Homo sapiens: one gene and its partner. The protein of the gene in region 2 purifies or fractionates together with the protein of the main gene of each other region. This does not show direct contact. Each region holds a gene or a part of one and is shown on either strand. Other genes may lie near its edges.

What was found.
Region 1: the proteins of SLC2A13 (region 2) and HIGD1A purify together in Homo sapiens (affinity purification with mass spectrometry; one large-scale study listed by BioGRID and IntAct). This does not show direct contact.

What each region holds. Positions count from the first base shown.
Region 1 is NC_000003.12:42,797,871-42,801,522, forward strand, and holds part of HIGD1A (HIG1 domain family member 1A, mitochondrial), read right to left. Parts: intron 1-3,652. UniProt on the Homo sapiens protein: Proposed subunit of cytochrome c oxidase (COX, complex IV), which is the terminal component of the mitochondrial respiratory chain that catalyzes the reduction of oxygen to water. May play a role in the assembly of respiratory supercomplexes.
Region 2 is NC_000012.12:39,760,028-39,763,679, forward strand, and holds part of SLC2A13 (proton myo-inositol cotransporter), read right to left. Parts: intron 226-3,652; coding exon 1-225. UniProt on the Homo sapiens protein: H(+)-myo-inositol cotransporter. Can also transport related stereoisomers.

The sequences.
Region 1 (3,652 bases), on a different chromosome or scaffold from region 2:
CCCCCGCCCGGCCAGCCGCCCCATCCGGGAGGGAGGTGGGGGGTCAGCCCCCCGCCCGGCCAGCCGTGCCATCCGGGAGGGAGGTGGGGGGGTCAGCCCCCCGCCCGGCCAGCCGCCCGGTCCGGGAGGTGAGGGGCGCCTCTGCCCGGCCGCCCCTACTGGGAAGTGAGGAGCCCCTCTGCCCGGCCAGCCGCCCCGTCCGGGAGGGAGGTGGGGGGGTCAGCCCTCCGCCCGGCCAGCCGCCCCGTCTGGGAGGTGAGGGGCGCCTCTGCCCGGCCGCCCCTACTGGGAAGTGAGGAGCCCCTCTGCCCGGCCAGCCGCCCCGTCCGGGAGGGAGGTGGGGGGGTCGGCCCCCCGCCCGGCCAGCCGCCCCGTCCGGGAGGGAGGTGGGGGTGTCGGCCCCCCGCCCGGCCAGCCGCCCCGTCCGGGAGGGAGGTGGGGGGGGTCAGCTCCCCTGCCCGGCCAGCCGCCCCGTCCGGGAGGTGAGGGGCGCCTCTGCCCGGCCACCCCTACTGGGAAGTGAGGAGCCCCTCTGCCCGGCCAGCCGCCCCGTCCGCGAGGGAGGTGGGGGGGTCAGCCCCCCGCCCGGCCAGCCGCCCCGTCCGGGAGGGAGGTGGGGGGGGTCAGCCCCCCTGCCCGGCCAGCCGCCCCGTCTGGGAGGTGAGGGGCGCCTCTGCCCGGCCGCCCCTACTGGGAAGTGAGGAGCCCCTCTGGCTGGCCAGCCGCCCCGTCCGGGAGGGAGGTGGGGGGTCAGCCCCCCGACCGGCCAGCCGCCCCGTCCGGGAGGGAGGTGGGGGGGGTCAGCCCCCCGCCCGGCCAGCCGCCCCGCCCGGGAGGTGAGGGGCGCCTCTGCCCGGCCGCCCCTACTGGGAAGTGAGGAGCCCCTCTGCCCGGCCACCACCCCGTCTGGGAGGTGTGCCCAACAGCTCATTGAGAACGGGCCAGGATGACAATGGCGGCTTTGTGGAATAGAAAGGCGGGAAAGGTGGGGAAAAGATTGAGAAATCGGATGGTTGCCGTGTCTGTGTAGAAAGAAGTAGACATGGGAGACTTTTCATTTTGTTCTGCACTAAGAAAAATTCCTCTGCCTTGGGATCCTGTTGATCTGTGACCTTACCCCCAACCCTGTGCTCTCTGAAACATGTGCTGTGTCCACTCAGGGTTAAATGGATTAAGGGCGGTGCAAGATGTGCTTTGTTAAACAGATGCTTGAAGGCAGCATGCTCGTTAAGAGTCATCACCAATCCCTAATCTCAAGTAATCAGGGACACAAACACTGCGGAAGGCCGCAGGGTCCTCTGCCTAGGAAAACCAGAGACCTTTGTTCACTTGTTTATCTGCTGACCTTCCCTCCACTATTGTCCCATGACCCTGCCAAATCCCCCTCTGTGAGAAACACCCAAGAATTATCAATAAAAAAATAAATTAAAAAAAAAAAAAAAAAAAAAAGAATCTTATAACTTCCAGCTGCACGACTCCTAAACCATAATTTCTAATCTGTGGCTAATTCATTAAACCTACAAAGGCAGTCTAGTCCCCAGGCAAGAAGGGGGTTTGTTTTAGGAAAGGGCTGTTACCATCTTTGCTTTATTTTTCTATTTTTGTTTTATGAGACAGGGTCTAGTTGCCACGCAGGCTGGAGCACGATCTCGATCTTTGCTCACCGCAACCTCTGCCTCCGAGGTTTGAGTGATTTGTGCCTTAGCCTAACAGCTGGGATAACAGGTGTGCACCACCATGCCTGGTTTTTTTTTTTTGTATTTTTAGTATAGATGGGGTTTTGCCATGTTGGCCAGCCTGGTCTCAAACTCCTGGCCCCAAGTGATTTGCCCGCCTCAGCCTCCCAAAGTGCTAGGATTATAGACGTGAACCATCATGCCTGGCTCCATCTTTTTTTGGCTAGGTCAGATCTCTTTCACTGTCTCAGTTATAATTTTGCAATGGTGGTTTCAATCACAGTGTAATTAGTTGTCAAAAGCCTAACACAGACAAGGTCTGAATTTAGAGAGAGTGATGTATTTTAGCTAAAGGAGGTTTGGCACGTTTCACAGAGAAACACTTGAGACTGGCTTTGAAGAAACTGCATAAATGGACTGGATAGAGAGATTAAACACTGTATTTATTTTAGGCCAGTATGTTTACTAGTTGCCTTCATATCTAATCATGAACTTCTCGGGCAGGTGCGGTGGCTCATGCCTGTAATCCCAGCACTTTGGGGCACCAAGGTGGGCAATCACTTGAGGTCAGGAGTTCGAAACCAGCCTGGTCAACATGGTGAAACCCCCATCTCTACTAAAAATACAAAAATTAGCTGGGCATAGTGGTGTGCATGCCTGAAATCCCAGCTACTTGGGAAGCTGAGGCAGGAGGATCGCTTGAACCCGGGAGGCAGAGGTTGCAGTGCGCTGAAATTGTGCAACTGCACTCCAGCCTGGGCCACAGAGAGACTCTGTCTCAAATTTTAAAAAATAAAAGAAAAAGAAAAAGAAAAAGAAAAAAAAAACATGACCTTCTCAAAGGGGAAGTTTATCACAAATCCTTTCATTTCCCTTCCCAACCCCACATTCTGACCACATTAAATATTTTTAAGATGCTCTCTATACCTCTAAGCCTTTGCACAAGCTGATTCCTCTACTTGTGAGAGTTTCCCTCCCTTTCCATCCCCTTCAGATACTCTTTCCTAGCTAACTCCTCCCATTTTTTTTTTCAGGTTTGGTTTTTCTTTTTTTACACTGAGTCAGAACATTATTTTAATAGTTACAAAACTTTTTTTTTAACAGAATCAGTATAAAATAGCAGTTGATTTCTCCATAATTATCAGAATTATTTATATTTGAGGTCTTGCCTAAGTGGGGCTGAAATCAACAAAAGGTCTTGGACTACTGGCTCAGAAATCATCCTAGGAAGCCCGCCCTGTTGACATTTGTCATGCTTAGCTCTTATGAGATGACCCGGTCCTTTAAAAAAAAAAAAAGTATCTCCGTTTATTCTGTTTATTTGGAGGTTTGAAGTGAATTCGGCAGCATTCATTAAACTCCTTCCAGCTCCTGTCATTTATCATTCTGACTACATCCATTTCAACTTTGCCTGCTCTGTTCTGAGTTGCTTTAACAATATTAAATCGTCCAAATTCTTTTCTCTCTCTTCTCAGAGGTTTTTTACTACTGCTGAGGTCTGGGCTATATAGTTTTTTATGACTCTGTCCCTACTGGCATGAGCTGCCATCAAAGACTCAAAGTTGTTTACAGGTTTGGCTGGCATCAATCTTCCCTGCAAAGGAAGCTGTTGGAACTGTAGTGTTTAATTAATGTACTAGTCTGTATCAACTGTCCACATCACCTTGAGTAATTCCTGGAACTCGGCGAACTCCTCACAGTTCACACTGCCACTGGGTGCCACCATACTGGACTCAGGTTCACATCTTAATTGACCTCCTCTCAGAAATTTTTGTCTCTTTAAGTTCGTAAGTGCTTTGGTTATGCAGTCCCATAGGACCTTGTACTTTCCTTATAACCCTTATAAGCACCAGTTTGTCTGTTTCTTTTGCTAGAATCCTTCAAGTCAGGGACCAATACCTGCTCTGCTTGTATCCAACTCCACTGCCTGGTGCAATACCCTATATATAATATGTACACTACAAATGTTTCTTGAA
Region 2 (3,652 bases):
ATTCCACATCAGAAGCATCATTGTCAGAAAGATGATAGTTACTTCCCTTTACCCGAATATATTCAATATATCTCCCTTCATCAGAATCTGAAGTGCCACATGTACATAGCCTGTTGTCAAAGAGTGATTCAATTTCCTCTAATTTTTTGCCTTTGGTCTCAGGAAGACAGCCATAGATGAAAAGGAGTCCCACAGCAGCAAATCCAGCATAGAGGAAGAAAGCTCCTGCAACGGAATATAATAGATACATGAATATGAATATATAGAGAGAGGCTTAAGTTGGAAAGATTACTTGATTTTGACTTTTTTTTTCTGGTCAGTCATGCATAATCACAGTATGAAATGGACCAAAAAATTACTATGAACCTGGTTTACTCCAATTGTTCCAACTCTGAGAATATGATGTAATGTATCTTTCTAAACTCAAGTTTAGAAACTCAAGAATAATAGAACAGGCTCAGATGTAAGTTTGGCTTTGAAGCCTTTCCTCCCTTCCCTGACTAGAGGGAATTATTCTCTTCCATGTGCTATCACAGCATGTTGTTGAGACCCCTAAAATAACAACCAAGAAATATTATAATTATGTACACACACGTATGCTTGCCTTGTCTATTACACTAGAGGCACTTTGAGGTCAGAAGAAGTTCCTTTCTTAATTTGTTTTTCATTTCCCTCCACTAGAATGTAAACTCCATGAAGTCAGAGAATTTTGTTTTGCTGTAAGATTATGCATGTCAATGCAGAACAGCCAGAAACACATAAATATTAGCTAGTTTGGTTTTCTAAGGGTCATGATAGCAAGCCTAGATGGATGAGATATATGAATGTATGACTTGTTTATATTCTCTACACATTTCCAAGATGGACTTTTAAAATAATTGAATTCCGACCAGCCTGGCCAACATGGTGAAACCTGTCTCTACCAAACACACACACACACACACACATAATTGAATTGCCAATTTGAATATAAGAAACTATACTTGTACTTTTGATGGTGGAAAACAACAAAGTAAAATGGAGCCCCTGTCTAATTTTAGGCTTTCAGTCCAGACCATCATGTGTATGAGATGGGGGAAGTAAGATGAAAAACTAATGTGACAATTGGCTGGAGAAAGGATATCAGACTGGGAGTGGGAAGAACTGAGTTTAAGTGTTGGCCATGTGACTTCTGGATAGTCATTTAACCTCTTCTCTGGGCCTCTGTTGCCTCATTAAGTAAAATAAGGGGGCTTCTCAGCTCCTACTTAAGTGTTGGCAGTTTATGATTCTGTAAATCTTACAGCCAAAATCAGGGGCATGTATAGGAGATATAGTTAAGAGATGGTTGAGAGAGAGACTTGATCTGTGTAATGGGGAAAATAATTCTAGCTTTGCCCAACTGTAAAGAATAGAAATAATGTATGTTATCATGCCCATTAGAATTCTGAATATCAGTTGCTCAAAAAAGTGATGCCCAGATTGTTAAATTCTACTAAATGACCAGGAAAGGAAGAGTTGCTATTAAGATACAGAATAAGATTAGTGTGACTAATTAATTGGGATGTTTTTACAAAAAGGGTGATACTGATAAGCTAGCTCTTGGAGAATGGGGGAATTTTGACAAAAAAAAAATGAAAGGAGATGAAGTCCTGTGTTCTGAGTACAGATATGCAAGACTGTGGAGGTAGGAAGAGAAATGGAATCTTTAGCAGGGAGGGACAAAGACGGGATAGTAATTATGATGAAGATAAAGAAAAAATAAGTACAGATGGTAAAACATTTTAGATTAAACTAGGCTTCTAAACTACAAAATCTGTAACAGCAAACCCAGTTTGACTTTTAAATATAATAGTATATTTTATCTTCATCATTATCTTTCACAATTTGGGAACAGTAGCATAATTAGAAGTAACAAATCAAATCTGTCAGCGCTAAACTCACTCCTATAGTTAAAAAACATTTGTTGGGTTAGGAAGATTCCTGAAGTTGATTACAGATTCTTTCTTGTGACCTGGATTCCCAAAGCTGAATAATATCAAGGAATTGCTATTAAAATACAAGACCGTTTTACAAAATCTGAGGAATCCAAAGCACGCAAATGCCAAAACTGCCTACTCAGTGTGGGTTCCAATGGTTAGACCTGTGGCTAAGTCGTGGAGGAGTGTGGGCAGACCTGGGAGGCTGTGACCTGGTCCATGTCATGGTCAAATCAGTCACTATCTCAGTTTCTCATTTATTCCTCCCTTGGAGTGAAAATGGCAAGAAAAAATGTCTGTAACGAGTCCATCAGGACTATTGAACAGTTAGATATTCCTCACCTTTATTCTTCTAAGGATTTAAATCTTATTAGAGCCCTACATTAAGTTCCAGATTAAAACAACTATTTAATTGAATTACACAAATTGACTACCTCAAGAGAGAAGCTTTGACATAATGCCCCCCAAGGGATCTCTTTAGCCACATGTGCTGTATATAAAATGGCATATTGGTGATATAGCAATGATACTTTTTAGTAATAAACATTATTGAATGGGGGCACAAGGCAGACCTGTGTAAGCAATATGGTTGAGGAAGGAATCAAATTTTGAGATCTTATGAAACAATAAAAAAGGAGGCAACAAAGAAGACATAACTATTTCCAGAGGAATACACGATTAGGATGTATATTTATTAAATGAGGAATATAAATGCATAGCTTACATAAACCAGTAACATGTGGATTAAAATGAGACACAAAAAGGGAGAAAAACTAGCCTGAATGAACTATTTTTCTACTACTAGAGAGTAGTAGACCAAATGGACCAGTGCTCTGACATGAGAGAAGCTTAATGCAAAGCAACACACTTTTAACTGTTTATTTTTGAAAGAATTCTGCTTATGCCCTATTTAAATTTCATTACTGTTGCCTCATTTTTCTCTGGTTTTCTGGCAGGATAAATTCAAGAAAGAGGAGCTTTGCTGTCAAAAGTATAATCATGTAAACTTTTATTATTTGGTCTATGCCTTTCTATGAAAAATGCTTTCTCAGGATGCGAGCATATACTTAGGTCTTCAAATATTTAAGTGTTCTCTAGAATCAGTAAATACGAGGAAATATTTATTGTGCTCGTATTTATTATGTCATGAAGATAAGTTTATGAATTTATCGAAAAATTTTAATTGCCAAATGGGATCCAGCTGAATATACTAAATATATATCCAGTTTAAAATGCCAGTGCATTTCCTTTCCAAGAAAATAAATATTTCAAATGTCTTAAGTGGTGATTAGGAGAGAGAAGAGTTTTATGAAGATAATAAAAGCATTAGATAAATACCATTAACTAAAAGCAAATACCAGTTCAGCATGGTCAGAAGAGATGGGGAATAGATTTTTATAATGTTTCATCATATTCACCATTCATCTGCAAAATTTATCCATGTATTTATTCATTTGACAAACACTTTTTGGTGCTTATCAGGTGAACAGGATGCCTTGGCAGGAACTGGGAATGTAACAATGAACAAGGCACAGTCCTGGCCCTCCAGGGATTTATAGTCTACTAGAGAGAGCTAAGGGCAGACAAACCTGTTCTTGCAAAGAGAAATGATAAGTGGCCAGAGCACAGAGTAAAGAGATTGCGGGGAGATGAGAGAAGCTCTTCTGGGAGAATGGTCTAAGCAGCAGGCATTC